Linked DNA regions of Homo sapiens: regions 1, 2 and 3 are each reported to be linked to region 4. The links are microRNA targets in miRTarBase. Many come from high-throughput screens and were not tested one by one. Region 4 holds a microRNA gene; each other region holds the end of a gene's coding sequence.

Region 1 (4,056 bases), not on the chromosome of region 4:
ACCATATGTAGACAGCTGATTTTTAACAAAGGTCCAAAGGTAATTCAGTGGAGAAAAAACAGTTGAAAAGGAGAGACTTTAAAACAGACTGGATATACATGTGCCAAAAAGTGAGTTTCAGTGTGTATCTTTGCACCATGTACAACAATTCACTCAAAATGGATTATGGGGCTACAACTCCTATAAAACTTCTAGAGGAAAGAAAATCTTTGTGATCTTGGGTTAGACAAAGATTTCTTAGCACACCAAAAGCATGATCCATAAAAGAAGAAATTTGTAAATTAGACTTCACCAAAATTTAAAAGATTCTACACTATGAAAATATTTGCAATCACATCTCTGATGAAGAGCTTGCATCCAGAATATATGAAGATGTCTCAAAACTCAGAAACTGTAAGTCAATAGGGAAATAGAAATTAAAACCACAACCATATGCCACTACACACCCATTTAAACGGCTAAAAGGAGAAAGACTGACCATGTTGGCAAGGATGTAGAGCAACTGGAAGACTCATACACCACTGGTAGGAATGTAAAAAGGCACAACCATAAAATGACTTAGACCACTGCTACACAATTAGCACCCAAGAGATATGAAATAACATGTTCATGCAATGTTTGTACAAAATGTCTGTGTCTGTTTATAGCAGTTTTAATGGTTAACAGTTGAAAACTGGAAACAACCCAAATGTACATCAATAGGTGAATGGATAAACAGTAGTACAGCTGGCCAGGTGCAGTGACTCATGACTGTAATCCCACACTTTGGGAGGCGGAGGCGGGTGGATCACCTGAGATCAGGAGTTTGAGACTAGCCTGGCCAACCCTGTCTCGTCTAAAAATACAAAAAAATGTGGCACGCACCTATATTCCCAGCTACTCAGGAGGCTGAGGCAGGAGAACCATTTGAATGCAGGAGGTGGAGGTTGCAGTGAGCCAGGATCACACCACTGCACTCCAGCCTGAGCGACAGAGCGAGACTCCATCTCAAAACAAACAAAAAACAACAGCAGTATAGCCAGTATAGCCATACAATGGAATACTGCTCAGCAATAAAAGGAATGAAGTATTGCTACACACTATAACATGGATGAATCTCAAAATTATGCTAAGTGAAAAAAATCAGACAAAAATAGTACATTTTGTATGATTCCATTTATATAAAATCCTGAAAAATTTTAAAACTCATCTGTATGACAATCAGTGGTTTACTGGGTGGGGGTGGGGGCTGGAGAGCAGGGTGGAATTTCAAGAATAAAAGGGGCATGAGGAAACATTGGGGTAATAGGTATGTTCACTATCTTGATTATGGTGATGATTTTACGAGTGTATACATATGTAACACTTCAAACTGTACACTTTAAATAATGTGCATGGTTTGCTTTATGTCAACTATAGCCCTATAAAGCTATTTTATTTTATTTTATTTTTTGAGATGGAGTCTTGCTCTGTTGCCCAGGCTGGAGTACAATGGCGTGATCTCGGCTCACTGTAAGCTCTGCCTCCCGGGTTCACACCATTCTCCTGCCTCAGCCTCCTGAGTAGCTGGGACTATAGGCACCCGCCACCACACCCAGCTAATTTTTTGTATTTTTAGTAGAGATGGGGTTTCACCTTGTTAACCAGGATGGTCTCGATCTCCTGACCTCATGATCCGCCCGCCTTGGCCTCCCAAAGTGCTGGGATTACAGACGTGAGCCACCGCGCCCGGCCTAAAGCTATTTTTTTAAAACACATTTAGAGCTATAGATAAGAATTGATAGTCATCAGCATATGGATGGTGGTAAGCAACATAAGAACATGAGCACAAGGAGGCCAGGCGCAGTAGCTCACACTTGTAATCCCATCACTTTGGGATGCCAAAGCAGGAGCATCCCTTGAGCCCAGGAGCTCGAGACCAGCCTGGGCAATATGGTAAAACACTTTCTCTACAAAATACATTAGCCAGATGTGGTGGTGCATGCCTGTAGTCCACTGAGTGTACTGAGGCTGAGGTGGGAGGATTGCTTGAGCCCAGGTCGAGGTTCAGTGAGCTGTTATCATGCCACTGCACTCCAACCTGGGCAACAGAGCGAGACCCTGTCTCAAAAAAGAAAGAAAAAAAAGGCAAGGAGAATATGTAGTTTTCTCACTTAATAAATATTGAATCCCTCCTATGTATAGATATGCGAGGGACTGGGGATACTAAAATGACTGCAATCTTGGTGCTTAATAATCTAGTGTTGGAATCACGCATATCAACAGGCAGTTATTATAGTGTCATATATGTCTAAATGGGAGAGATTAAAGGGGTTCTGTGAAAGCAGTCAGAAGATTTTGAAAGCTCAGAGTAAGTAATGTCTCAGCCAAAGCCTGAAGAACATATAGGAGGTAACCAGCATGAGATAACCTGTGCTGAGCAGAGTGGGCTTGAAATCAGATCTAGCGGAGTGATTTGGAAAGTACAGCTTCAGGGGTGTTTATTTGCAAAAGCCCCTTCAAACCCTATCTAATTTGTTAATATAATTTTGTACGTATTTTTCCTAAATAAATCCCCTCCCCACTCCCACAACCCCAACAAATTGTGTAAATTTTGGCCCCACAAAACCTGGATTTGTCCTTAAGTAGGTCTTTCTTTTGGGTTACTTAGAATTCAGCTCCTTCTTATGTCTGGGGAATTCCTTGAGTCTTCCCACTGAGCCAGTCTCCCTCTATAAAAGCTGAAAATGCCAAACAACTTAAGCTGAACTTGCACATACTTTAAAATTGGTAACTGGTTAGCAACAACAAATCAAGGAAGGACCTTAGTGTATCCTCTCCAGATGCAGTAGCACATGTGTCAAGATCAAATTCCCAAAGCAGCAGATAGTGTTACAAAGCAGTGTGTCAGTGCTTGGCAACAGTGGCTACAATCTCCTCACCCGACCAGTTATGCAGTATGGTTCCAGGATTTATTCCCAGCCGTGTGGCTCAGACTGATGCTGATTCTCTAGTCCTTTTGGCCATTCTGCAAGCAGCACAATATTCTTCTAATACAATTTATCTTATGCTGAAAACCAGAATCCATCTCTGTTGCTTACGACTAAGAATCCAAACTGATAGACAATTTGGTATTTGGAAGTGGAGTGCTACAAAACAGACCTAGAATGGTGTGTAATTGGCCGGGTGGAAAAGGCAGGATGGAGGGCATTGAGACACAACTGTTTCGGGCTGGGAAACTAGTGACTCTGAGACAGGACACCAAGCTCACACCATCAAGAAATGTACTCTAAAGCTGAGCAGCCTTAGAAAGAGTCTTCTTCCCAGTGCTCATATTAGATGTGGCTGTTGAGGACAAAACACCAGAGAGCCACAGCCACCAGATGAAAAAGCAGCCTACGGATTCCACCAAAGATCTTTTTTTTTTTTAGAGACATTTATTCAGCGTCACAATCAGACTATTACATTTAGCAATCAACAGCATGGGTGCAAAAAAAAAAATCTACATTAAAACACTTTGTTGGAATGCTTTACACTTTCCACAGAACAGAAACTAAAATAACCTGTTATACAATTAGTCACAAATACAGTCCTCGAGTTTTTTGCCCATACACATGAGTATTTGTCTAAAACATGTCTTCTTTGTAGCAGCTAGGCCCTGCCACCACTGTGCTTGGCTGAGTTCACAAATCTGTTGTAACCTGTAGCTTCCCTGTCACTTCTCTGGCTCTCCTCTCCTGCTAAGCTTTGTTTCCTAATTAAAATCTTCTGCCACTGCCATAGCTACTGCTGCTGCTGGAAACGCCATAGCCACCTTGGTTTTGTGGTTTTGCAAAGTATTGGCCTCCACCGCCATAGGGGCCAGAGCTTCTGCCTCCAAAATTTCCTCCCTTCATGGGTCCAAAATTTGAAGACTGATTGTTGTAATTGCCAAAATCATTGTAGCTTCCACCACCTCCAAAATTGCTTCCATCATTACCAAATCCATTATAGCCATCCCCACTGCCACCATATCCACCACCACCACAGCTGCCACCAAAGCCACCACGACCACTGAAGTTTCCTCCACGACCAAAGTTGTCATTCCCACCGAAACCA
Region 2 (4,056 bases), not on the chromosome of region 4:
TAAGACCAAGGTTCCTGTGCAGGACCAGGTTCTTTTGCTGGGCTCCAAGATCTTAAAGCCACGGAGAAGCCTCTCATCTTATGGCATTGACAAAGAGAAGACCATCCACCTTACCCTGAAAGTGGTGAAGCCCAGTGATGAGGAGCTGCCCTTGTTTCTTGTGGAGTCAGGTGATGAGGCAAAGAGGCACCTCCTCCAGGTGCGAAGGTCCAGCTCAGTGGCACAAGTGAAAGCAATGATCGAGACTAAGACGGGTATAATCCCTGAGACCCAGATTGTGACTTGCAATGGAAAGAGACTGGAAGATGGGAAGATGATGGCAGATTACGGCATCAGAAAGGGCAACTTACTCTTCCTGGCATGTTATTGTATTGGAGGGTGACCACCCTGGGCATGGGGTGTTGGCAGGGGTCAAAAAGCTTATTTCTTTTAATCTCTTACTCAACGAACACATCTTCTGATGATTTCCCAAAATTAATGAGAATGAGATGAGTAGAGTAAGATTTGGGTGGGATGGGTAGGATGAAGTATATTGCCCAACTCTATGTTTCTTTGATTCTAACACAATTAATTAAGTGACATGATTTTTACTAATGTATTACTGAGACTAGTAAATAAATTTTTAAGGCAAAATAGAGCATTCAAAGCCAGCTTGGAATTTAATTCTGTCTTGATACCTTGTTATTTATGCAAAAACTCCTATCTCCTTTCCTTTATGACAAGAGAGTAAGTTTTAGGTTGGGATCCATGTTCTACTGATTTCTGTATTTCTGTCTTTGTTAAGTCCAGTGCTTTATTTATATCACTCAATAATGGTTGAACCAAATTGAATTTCTACTTATAGAGCATAGTGAAATGATATTTTATAAAATGAATTAGTTGCTCTGACATGATCACAATCAAATTACTAAACATTTTAGAAACTAAATTAAACTCCTTCCCCCCTCTTCTCCTTTAAAGCTATTTGTATGAAATGAAGTCTGGCACCATGCCCCCTTTTATTCTCTATGTCTCACACCCAACTAAAATAGTTATTATTTCTGGGGATGATGGTGGGCAAGGAAAGGTATTTTCCACAGGGATCTAGCAATTCTGTTTAACTAGTGGGGATTCCTAGGGGTAGATGGACATTGGGAGCGAACAAACTTTCTAAAGCTGGGGGACTGTGGACCACCCTCTCTCCTACCTGCCTTAGGGTCTAGCAGGTCTTCTCCAGGATGAGGGCGCCAGTCTGGGTGAGGGTGGGTGAGGAGCTGGCTTCTGGGTTGACCTCAATATTCTGCTCAGGTTCTGCTGATTGAGCATTTTCCTCTCTTCTTTTTTTCATGAGGAGATCCCTGTTCCTGTCTTGAGAACTTGAGTCCCTTCCTCCATCTTCCTCCCTCCATTTACTCCTCTCTCTGACTCTCTCTCTTGCTCTCTCTCTCATGACTCACTACTGATCACCTGTGAGTTTTTTTCACGGGCTGAGACGTGCCCGCCTTCTTCCACACTCATCCTAGTTCCTTGTTTCTTTAAAACTTGCTCAAGAACCAACTCCTGCAGGGGGGTTTCCAGTCTTAACCCCACTCAGCAAAATTCACCACCATTTATGGGCTTTCCTCATCACATTTATGGGTGAAATGCCCCGGGGAGGGCACTGGTCATCTGGCCAGGTCTGCACTAAGTTGGACTGATTTCTGAGAATAGAGTCCATGGTCGCTTTTTCTGGATGTACCCTCTCCTGCAGGGTAGGGACTATGATTTTCTTGTCAACTTGAGACTTCTGATTGCAGAGACCAAGAGGTCTTCCATGGTCTTCCATCAGATAGGGAGGAAGCTAAAGGCGAGCATCACGTCCATCATTTTCCCTGCGCGTGGAGTTGTGAGGGGTAGGTTTTCCTTCCCTAAACCTGAGTATATAGAGGATTTAGGGATTTTCCCTCAAGAACTAAACATTTCCTCACGGGAGGAAAACATATCCCCCATTGGACTCCTTAGGACAAATCTTGCAGATTATCATACAAAAATGAACAGCCTGAAGTCTAAACTGACTCACTAAGGGGTATTTCCATCCTTGGGTTCTGGCTTAATACTTTCTCCCCTCCCCAACTACTCACTGCCCAGCCTGGCCTCTCCCCAGACTCCGCAGCAGCCTCCTCGCTGCCCCCTTCACTTTCTTATTCCTGAGGGTGTAGATGAGCGGGTTGAGAGCAGGTGTGACCACGGTGTAGAAGAGCGATACGAACTTGCCCCGTGCCTGGTTGTAGCGCTGCGCGGGCTGCAGGTAGGTGTAGATGGCCGAGCCGTAGAACAGGCAGACGGCTGTCAGGTGGGACCCACACGTGCCCACCGCCCTCCTCCGGCCTCCGCTGAACCGCATGCAACAGACAGCTCGGGCCACGGCACCGTAGGAGGCCAGGATGACGGCAAACGGCAGCAGCAGGATGACCACGCGGGCGGCGAACATCTGGTTCTCGGTAGTGTCTCCGTCGCCTCCGCAGGCCAGCTTGAGCAACGCCGGCAGCTCACAGATGAAGTGGTCCAGCAGGCGGGGCGCGCACAGCGGCCGCTCAGCCAGGAGCGCGGTTTGCGCAACCGAGTTGGTGAGGCCGCTTAGCCAGGAGGCGCTGGCCAGCGTGCGACATAGGCGCGGGGAGACGAGCCCCGCATAGCGCAGCGGGCGGCACACTGCGGCCGCGCGGTCCAGAGCCATCACCGCCAGGAGGACGCATTCGGCGGAACCCAGAGCCAGCGATGCGCACAGCTGGGCCGTGCAGTGGCTGCGCGGCAGCCAGAGCGCTGGTCCGCGCAGGTTGGCCAGCAGCGGCGGCACCACGCTAGTAGTGAAGCCCGCGTCTACCAAGGCCAGGTGGCAGAGGAAGTAGTACATGGGCGTGTGCAGGCGCGGGTCGCGCACCGCCAGCAGCACCAGCGCCGAGTTGCCCGTCAAGGTCAGGAGGTAGCACAGGAGGACAAGGGCGAAGAGGACCGGCTGCAGGGAAGGCCAGTCGGAGAAACCCAGCAGGAGAAAGCGCTCCTCTGCGCTGTAGTTGGCCTAAAGGAGGAAAACTCCCAGAATGTTTGGAAGGTCGAAATAAAAAAGGGTGACTACCCCTTATAAGCAAAGGGAAAACCTTGGAGTGTGGGGCTGGGCTGGGAGAAGGAATGGAATCATATACAAGGTCAGTTTGTGGATTGTAATCCCATTTACAGATGAGATTACTTAAAAATAAACTCCCTAAGAATAAGAGCAACACTCCAAGCTTGGCCTGGCCAACACTCGGTAGGCAGAATGATCACCTCCGTTGTTTCAGGTACTCTGTGTTTATTTATGCAACAGTTCATGTAAAATGGAGACGAGGCCAGAAGAATCCTTGAGCAGACAGAGCCAGTTGGGCCTCCTAAGTGACCTTAACCTTGCTTGATTTGCAAGCATGTCTGAAACTTTATTTGTGGTATTTCTTGTAAATGCCTATGTTAAAGAAACACAGAACTTAAGCTCAACCAATCAGAAGCAGCCAACAAAAACGTAATTAGTAACTAGGACTTCCTCATGGGATAGACCAAATAAGGCAACTGTATAACTGTGTAACTGTATAACTGTAACCAATGAAATATTATCTTTGCTTTTATCTATTTGTCCTAAAAAGCCTCCTCCTCATGTTCTCTCTGGGGAGCTCCCTAGCCACTTCTGGATCACTGCTCAAATAAACTCTTAAATATTTTATTGGGCCTTAGTTTACTTTCTAACACAACCCATTATACGGCTGATTACTGATTTTTAATTTGTTGTGAATAGAGACTACTCCCAACGTCCATGCCCCTCCCACTGAGGGGAGATCAGCACACGTATACTAGCCTTTAAATCAGGAATAAGTTGGGTAGAAAAAAAGAACACTTTCTGGTAGACTAGAATATCAGGACATCTTGGTTTTACCTACATAGCTCCCTTTAGCCAGTTATATGATATGGGGAAATCTTCATTTCCCTCTGTCTCAATTTTTTCATATGTAAATCAAGGAGTTTGAACTAGATGTCATCTAAGTTTCCTGTCCCAAATCCTTGGCTTTACTA
Region 3 (4,056 bases), not on the chromosome of region 4:
GCTGGGCCGTCTCTACGGCTCCCGGCGCAGCTGCCTGTGGCGCAGCCGCAGCGGGAGCGTCAACGAGGCCAGCTGCCCCACGGAGCAGACGCGGCTGTCCAGCCAGGCCAGCATGGGGGACGACGAGGACGACGACGAGGAGGAGGCCGGGCCGCCGCCGCCCTACCACGACGCCCTCTACTTTCCGGTCCTCATCGTCCACCGGCAGGAGGGGTGTCTGGGCCACAGCCACCGGCCGCTGCACCGCCACGGCTCCTGCGTAGAGACCTCACTGTGACCTCCGGCCCCGGAGTGGCCCGCGCCGTCCTCCCGCCTGCCCCTCGCCGGACTGTGCTCCCTCTGCGACGCAGGGCGAGTCACCACGGTGACTGAGGCCGCGCGGGGGGCAGGGAAAGGGAGGTGAGGGCCGCAAGACAGGCCCGGATGGGGCCGAGACCCCCGCTGTCCCTGTACATAAAGAGACCGATGGGTGGGAGGGGGTCGGCTGCTCCCCGAGATCCCCCTGGCAGAGTCATTCTTCCAGCCCCAACCCTGAGTTCCTAAAGGGACACCTCCCTCCTGTCCAGCCCTTCAACAGATCTTCTGTTAGATGACAACCGTGCCGTGGGCCCCGCGTTGGGCCTTGTCTGAAGGGAGAGGCCCTGGCATGCGGATGGGAGATTTAGAGGCTGTGGAGAAGGGAACTTGGGGCTTTCCTTCCTTCGTGGCCTCACTCCCCTGGGGCCTCTCTCTATGGAGGGGGCAATGGTTTGGTGACCAGCAGGCTGGATTCCAACTAGCTAATGCATTCAGCAGGTCTGAGGCTGGGGCCAGGTGTCAGCCCTAGGCCTCCATCCAACACCGTGGAAATGTTGCTGCCCTCTTCTTGGCGCTGACCCCAAGATTGGGGTTTCCTTTCTGCCGCTCCCTCCACTGTTGTTTATCTAACTGGGCCCCCACTCCAGGTCCAGAGGGACTGTGCTCACTGCACAGACATCACTCACCTTCCGCTCCCCAGTCCTGCAGAGCTGTTGCCAGGGTGCAGTGGGGAGGGGAGTGAAATGTGGAGGACTGTGTACCTCAGTCCTCTCTCTAAACTCCTCAGCCTCCCAACAGGGGCCTCCTCACCTGGGTTCTGAGTGTATACCCCTTTTAGAGAGTGAGATGCCACCCGGGCAGCACTCGTTAAAGCTGGCCAGCACGAGTGACTAAGGGGAGAGAGCATGACATAGACCTGGGTGGCAACGGGGACCTCTGGAAGCAGGTGGGAGTAAGAGAGGAGAGGGCAGTGGAGGGTAGAGGAAAAGGACCTCCAGAGGTGGGGTGTCTGTGGGGGCGGCCTTTGCCTCCCTAAACCTGTGCGGAGGAGTGGAGTGTGCTTGTCGCTCAAACACATCTCTGGGGGACTGAGGACGTTGTCACAAGCCCCAACTGGAGAAATAATTCCAATGGCAGGGTCAGAGGCAAGCATTCTCTAAATCTTGCCCAACCCTTCCATCCTTCCCTATCCTATGAGCTGAAGCCCTGCTGTGTGTCGCAGGGTCTTCAAAGGGGCATCCTGCCACCACCCCAGGGCGCTGGCCCCACGTCCTGTTCCCCTAAAGCTCTGACACCGCCTTCTCTCCGTGTGCTCCCCCCACCACCTCCACCCTGATGTGCTTCAGTGTGCATGTCTGTGAACAGCCCTCCTGCCCTGCCAACTCCCCTGGCTAAAGTCTCCCCAGCAGATTTAGCACCCAGGGATTGAGCTCACATTTCAGGCTAGAGAGGATAACCCTTGGGCCACCCACATCTCTCACCCCTGATGCTTCTTACTTCGCCTGAGCCATCAGAACTCCTCCTTACCCTCCTTCAGCCCCTCTCATCTTCCTTCAGCCCAGCCAGGCCTGCACCACCAACTGTGTGGCCTCCACCTATGCAACATCGCCTCTGGCTCCCCTTCCCTTCTTCCTAGCGGGGAGTGCGAGGGGCCCAAATTGTGGGGATACCATGGCCCATGGCTTCTAAAGGGTTTAGCTTTACTTTCAGGTAGAGATGGCTGAGTGAGGAGGGAGAAGAGGCTAGAGAGAGGGAGGCTTGGGCAGGGGAAACAGCTGCCCACCAGGTTTTCCTGGACAGCAGTGCCCACCTGCCTACTAGCACTGAACCTGCCTGGACCCTGAGTCTGTGCTCCTTGGGGGCCTGGCGTTTGGAGCACCCTTCTTTCCTCTGAATGGACATCTGTGAGGTACAGGTGGTGAGCTGCAGCCTCAGGCTCCATTTCTTAGCCAGCTGGCACCTGGATGTCATGCTTTGTGTGGGGACAGCCTGGCCACCTCAGGGCTCCAAGGAAGGAGGAACGTGGCTCCTCCTCCCTCAGGCCTGTTCCTGAGACAGAGCCTGGTCTCACAAGAGGGGAAGGGGGACCTCTATTATTATTTTTGCCTGTATTGACCATTTCTGCCTAGGTCGTCTCAGACAGCCTCATCTCCCACACATGCACAGACTTAGAGAGAAACCAATTCTTTGGTCTATTTTCTTGGTAGCTTTACTGATTGCCAGGGAAAATGAAAACCAGAAAATTAATTAATCTCTAAAATTAAACTTTACACTGAATGTTCTTGTTTCTCTAATTAGAACTTCTGCTAGCAGCTGTGGCTATACACACACACACACACACACACACCCTCACACCTACACGTTTGCACTCCGGAACTGTCAGAGGGTGTCAGGCACAGACAGACTCTAGGTTGCCTAGACAGGCACACACATGCAGTCACTCCCAAGCCCCCTTTGGTGCTCTGCTCAGCGCCTGCTTAGCGGAAGGAGTCCCTGGAGAGCAGGCACTCCTGGACTGGGGTTGTAGCCCATGACCTGCCCTTTGGGGACACAGTTCTGGAGGCTCTGGGCCAATGAATCAGCCCAAGGAGGATGGGCAATGGCGCTCAGCCTGAATCAGTCAGCTAGGTCTCTTGTGGCCCTGGGGGCTGATGTGATTCCTGTAGGTGTGGCCCCAGGGTGGACAGCTACAGAGTGATGGGGGACTCATGTAGGGCACCTGGAAGGCTCCATGTGTCCTGGGGACAAGGGCTTGTGGGGTGGGCTGGGCCTGGCTGGGGAGAAGACAGGTCTCTGTCAATTGGGTGCATCACACTGTGGCCTTTTTGTCGTGGATTTAAGCGCAAAGATTGTACAAATCAAACTGGTGGATAATAAAGTCGTGGATGACTCACTGACTTCCTGTCCCAGTGTGGCACTTCTTTCCCTCCCTCCCAGGGAAGCTCTCTGGGGTGGGTGGCAGGGATTGTGTCATCCTTCCCTGGAAGTTGTCATCTACAGTTGCCTCCCCAGAGGAGTCCACTGGGTCTGAGCCCCTGGTGTCAGCTCATTGTCCCCTTCCCAGGTTGGGAGTTGGGGAACTAGGGGATGGCGTGGCCTGTAGAACTGGATCACTTAAAGCAGAGTCAAGCAACAGGGAAATGCATCTACAGGGATGAGGGTGGCAGAGAGAGCCAGGCATAGCCCTGCTGTAGCCAGAGGGTGTGTGTGTGTGTGTGTGTGTGTGTGTGTGTGTGTGTGTGTGTGTGTTTGAAGATCAAGGATCTGTTTGGTAGAGAAGAAAATGGTGGGGAGTCAGGGAGGCAGGCAGCCCCAACGGGAGAATCTGGCAGGCACAGTCCCTCAGACACCTCTCTGACTTCCCTGTTCCTGAAAGAAGTTGGTCATTTGTGGGTGTCCAGTAATATCCTTTCCCTGGGCACAAAGGCTGGGTCCCTACTGCATACCCTTTCTTCCCCCATGCCAGGCTCCCTTCCCTGCCTCATGTCTCCATCCATACAACCCTTGATCACTCCAAGGTTATTCACAGTCCCCCTCCCCGCTCCCTCTGAACCAGTGTGATACTCTGCAGCAGGCATGGCAGGGGTATGAAATGAGGGATGGGGCTGGGGCCATGATCCAAGTCAGGTCATTTTATCCCACAGAGTTCTCAGGGCCATTGGCAGTTATGGTTGACATGAAGTGGCTGGGATTCAGGGCCCGCTGGCGGGCTGCTTCTCGGTTTGCGTAGAGGGCCTGGCCAATGAGGTACTCGCTTTC
Region 4 (4,061 bases):
GTGGCTGCCCCCGTGGACTTCCTGCGCAAACAGAGCCAGCTGCTTCGCTCGAGGGGCCCCAGCCAGGCGGAGCGTGAGGGCCCGGGAACACCACCCACCACCCTGGCACGGGGCAAAGCACGGAGCATCAGCCTGAAGCTGGACAGCGAGGAGTGAGGCCCACACCAGCCTGGACCTGGGTTATTTATTGACACACCCAAGGGGCCCGAGGGGCTGCGTGTGGGAGGCTGGGGACCCAGACTTTTGGCCCCAGCGCTGGCCCCCCCAGCCCCACACCCTATATCTCCGTGTGCTCCTCGGTGTTACTTCCCTTTCATATGAGGGGACCCAGCGCCGGGGGGAGGGAGGAGGGCGTGGGCATGGGCGCAGAGGCTTTTCCAGTGTGTATAAATCCATGAAAATAAACGCCACCTGCACCCCACCCACTCACCCCATGCCTGGCATCACAGGGCAGCCAGCCCAGTTTCCAGTTCAACAGGGGACACTGATGTGCACAGAGAGGCCAACACACACCCAGGGCCATCCAGCTCACAGGCAGGGTCAGGATGGGGGCCTGGGCCTCAAAAGGTCGCACGAAACCCACGCCCAGGGCCATCCATGTCACAGGCAGGTCAGGATGGGGGCCTGGGCCTCAAAAGGTCTCACGAAGCGCTCGGCCCTCTCCTCTTTCTGGACAGTCAGCCCACCCCAGCCCAACCCGGCTCACCTCAGCCCCAGCGTAGCTTCTCATGGAAACCCTGCCCCCAGACACCGAGGCCAGGAGACCATGGGATCCGAGGCTGGAGTGGGAGGGCAGCACCAGGAGACTACCTCCCTCAGGTGCCCAGCTACCTAGCTTGTACCCACTTCATCTCCCCCTTAAGACTGTGGGCTCCTGGGGCGCCCCAGCCCTGGCCAGCGAGAGACACTTCCTTGGTGAAAGAGCTCATCGTAATTTCTCTAACAGGGACACCAGAGCCTCAGAGCTGGTGGGTGGAGGGGCTAGGATTTGAACCCTGATTCTTTGCCTCCCAACAGCCACCCAAGTACCAGGAATGCCAGGTGATGACCCGGCTCTCCCAGTGGAGCAGCTCAGCAGACTCAGAGAGAGATAAATAAAGGCCTTTATATACACAGAAGCATGACGCAGCACGGGCAGGGGGGCTGGCAGCTGCAGCAGTGGGCTTGGCAGGTAAGGCAGGGCCAAGTGCTCCTGTCAATGGGAGAAGATCCCCCGGAACCGGGCTTTGTCCTCTTCGTCCTTCTGCCGGATCCGTGCCTCCAGGGCCCGCAGCTCTCGGCTCACCACAGGCGCCAGGGCTGGGTCCAGCTCCAGCACTTTGGCAAAGTCAGCCTGGGCCTCCTGGGCATTCCACACGGCCGCGTGGGCCTTGCCCCGCTTGAAGTAGGCCTTGACGTTGTCTGCAGGGGAGGCCAGTGGGCAGTGGGCATGCAAGGGCATGAGGGGGGATCCTGGCCAGCTGCCTGCCCTCATGTCTCCTGGCACCATGGGCCCACAGGGGAGAGAGAGCCCTCCCTGACCTGAGGATGCCACCCCACCCCCAATACACCATTCATGCTTCATTGGCACAATGGGGCCCACAGCCCTGCCGAGTAGAGGCATTTAGTCAGGCCCCCGTGGGAGCTCAGAATGGGGGTTGTGAAAGGCTAGGTCTTGACCCCAGCAGTGACAGGAGAAAGGCCACTCTCTGACCACTCGCAGCCCCCGGCAGCCCAGGGCCCGGTGCTCACCGTCGTACTTGTTGAGGATGGAAGAGCAGTGGTCCAGCACCTCGTAGTACTCCTCGACCACCAGCTTGCACTGGCAGTAGTTGAGCAGCAGCGGCGTGATCTGCTGGTCCAGCTGGATCCATTCAGGGGACCCAGGCTGTTCCTGGGAGTATGGGGGCAGGGAGCGGGGAGAAGCTGTAGACCTGGGCCCCCTGGCTCCACACCCCCCTCCATCCATCCTCCCCCTCAGCCTCCAGGCAGTACCTTCATCTGCAGGTTCTTGAGGCAGGCAATGGCATCGTAGTACTTGGCAGCAGCCTCCTTCACATGCCCCTCGCGGTACAACCGGTTGCCCTCCTGGTGGATAAGTGGCACTGCCTTTGCCTTCTCTTCGTCTGTCATGGCCCATGGGTCCTGCTGGTACGTGCCAGGGCTCTCCACCTGCAGGGCATGGGGCATATCACAGCGGGGCTCGGGGACACCACAGCTGCGTCCGTCAGCAGCAGACCTGACCCACATCTGGGCTGGCTGGGCCCCCAGACATCACACACCAGCAGCAGAGCTACTTGTCACTCAAAAAGCATCAAACATCGATGTCACATCTCCTGTGTGCCCAGCACTGTGCCAAGTGCTAAGAATAGAACAGTGAACAAGACGGTGAAAAGCCCTGCCCTCGCAGAGATCATGCTGCATGGCAGGTTCCCTAAATGGACAAGGAAATCCATGAATTCCAAGGGACTTCAAGGTGCGGCAGAGGCTATAAAGGAAATGAGCTGCTGCGAGACAGAGAATGAGGAGACCGGGTGGGCAGGGCCGGTTTCCTGGAGGAGGTGACATTTGAGATGTGAAGGAGGAGGAAAGGAGACCCAGGGTACTGCCAAGGGTCCTGCACAGGTTTTCTTGTCTCTGTCCGCTCCCCCAGCAGTCCACCTGCGGATCCCACCACCCCTGGGTGGACAGGCCAGCGCCGCCCTGAGGCTGGGCAGTGGGGGCCTGGTGAGACCAGGCGCGGTGGCCCCTCACCTTCAGCATCTCCATGTGGAAGATGAGGGGCTGGGGGTTCTGCTGCAGGGCGTCCAGGTCAGCATGGCCCAGGGAGCTGTGTTCACGCATCTGTGCAACACCGCAGCAGTGCCGCTGGCCCTCCAGGGGGTCCTTGCCCACCGCGATGTTGCGGAGACTCTTGGCCACCAGCGGGTACAGGACCACATGCTGCGGGAAGGCAAGGGCGCCGGGGGCTCTGTCACCGTGGGCTGGCTGGTCACCGGGTCCACAAGGCCCAGCCCCCTTCCCCACCACCATCTGAGAACAAACACCAAGGCCCAGAGAGTGACAACTGGGACCCTACTCCGTTTAAGCACAGGAGGCTTTTAATTCAGGACTCCTCCAGTCGCTCAGCCCTCTCTCCTGGTGAAGCCCCAGCTTCTGCCACATTCTCTGGCCACCAAACAGAGCACCTAACCCCCTCCTCACCCCCACCACAGACACATGCCTACCATCAACCCCTGTCTCCCTGGTCCTTACAGGCCCAGTAGAATTCTTACCTCCTCTCCCTCCAGAGGATAAGGCCCTTTGCTGGACTATGCAAAGAACTGGGGCCCCCCACATTCTGTTCCCAGCAGCTCCTCCTTCTGCCCCACCCACACCCCACTGAGGGCCTACCTCAGAGCTGGGCCCAGGCCAGCCACTTCAAAACCCTCAGGGAGGCCGGATGTGGTGGCTCACGCCTGTAATCCTAGCACTTCGGGAGGCCAAGGCGGGCGGATCACCTGAGGTCAGGAGTTCAAGACCAGCCTGACCAACATGGTGAAACCGCGTCTCTGCTAAAATACAAAAATGAGCCGGGCACGATGGCAGGTGCCTGTAATCCCAGCTACTCAGGCAGCTAAGGCAGAGAATCAGCTGAACCCAGGAGATGGTGGTTGCAGTGAGCCAAGATCACGCCACTGCACTCCAGCCTGGGCAACAGAGTGAGACTTAGTCAAAAAAAAAAAAACCCCACAGGGAGACAGGCATAGGGGACCTAGCCTCTAATCTCTTGCTTGGCAAAGCTGCTAGGCTGGTGGGAACCAGATAACCAGATTCCTCCTACCCGGGTCCTCCCCACTCCTCCCACTGCCCTGTTGTCTGGACAGGGGCTGACTGCCGGGCTGCCATCAGCGGGCATTTCCTGAGTCTTGGCTCTGGACTGGCTCGCGCTGGGCATCCCAAAGCTAGAAGTAAACAGGCCAGATCCCTGCTCTGCAATAGCCTAGGACAAGGCAGAAGAGCAGATCCTGGCCATGCAGGGCATGAGGGTTGGAGGACCCAAACATGGGAGTTGAGCCAACCACTAGCAGTCAGGGAGGGCT

Evidence for each region. The annotated mature microRNA hsa-miR-6752-3p reads UCCCUGCCCCCAUACUCCCAG and lies in region 4 at 1,874-1,894, opposite strand. An mRNA with a match to its seed (bases 2 to 7 or 8) in the 3' UTR can be bound and repressed. Matches are read on the target gene's strand: a 7mer-m8 pairs with bases 2 to 8, a 7mer-A1 pairs with bases 2 to 7 and ends in A, and an 8mer does both.
Region 1: miRTarBase lists HNRNPA1L2 as a target of hsa-miR-6752-3p. Seed matches in the 3' UTR shown: 7mer-m8 at 3,615-3,621.
Region 2: the mRNA of UBD is a reported target of hsa-miR-6752-3p. Seed matches in the 3' UTR shown: 7mer-m8 at 404-410.
Region 3: the mRNA of TMEM151B is a reported target of hsa-miR-6752-3p. Seed matches in the 3' UTR shown: 8mer at 385-392, 7mer-m8 at 1,430-1,436 and 7mer-m8 at 2,059-2,065.

Annotation. Positions count from the first base shown.
Region 1 is chr13:52,643,116-52,647,171 of GRCh38, reverse strand. HNRNPA1L2 (heterogeneous nuclear ribonucleoprotein A1 like 2) reads right to left here. Exons shown (of 1, transcript NM_001389320.1): 1 at 3,399-4,056. The coding sequence ends at 3,717. Among named protein-coding and RNA genes, the nearest start is that of HNRNPA1L2, 2.7 kb to the right of the region's middle.
Region 2 is chr6:29,552,206-29,556,261 of GRCh38, reverse strand. It overlaps UBD (ubiquitin like modifier D), which reads left to right. Exons shown (of 2, transcript NM_006398.4): 2 at 1-747. The coding sequence ends at 382. OR2I1 (olfactory receptor family 2 subfamily I member 1 (gene/pseudogene)) reads right to left here. Exons shown (of 2, transcript NM_001396058.1): 2 at 1-3,037. The coding sequence ends at 2,096. Among named protein-coding and RNA genes, the nearest start is that of OR2I1, 3.8 kb to the right of the region's middle.
Region 3 is chr6:44,276,251-44,280,306 of GRCh38, forward strand. TMEM151B (transmembrane protein 151B) reads left to right here. Exons shown (of 3, transcript NM_001137560.2): 3 at 1-3,194. The coding sequence ends at 277. It overlaps DRC5 (dynein regulatory complex subunit 5), which reads right to left. Exons shown (of 5, transcript NM_182539.4): 5 at 2,484-4,056. The coding sequence ends at 3,931. Among named protein-coding and RNA genes, the nearest start is that of TMEM151B, 7.8 kb to the left of the region's middle.
Region 4 is chr11:67,488,128-67,492,188 of GRCh38, reverse strand. It overlaps MIR6752 (microRNA 6752), which reads right to left and starts at 1,944; the gene lies at 1,874-1,944. AIP (AHR interacting HSP90 co-chaperone) reads right to left here. Exons shown (of 6, transcript NM_003977.4): 3 at 2,734-2,922; 4 at 1,975-2,151; 5 at 1,732-1,873; 6 at 1,086-1,401. The coding sequence ends at 1,196. It overlaps PITPNM1 (phosphatidylinositol transfer protein membrane associated 1), which reads left to right. Exons shown (of 24, transcript NM_004910.3): 24 at 1-421. The coding sequence ends at 156.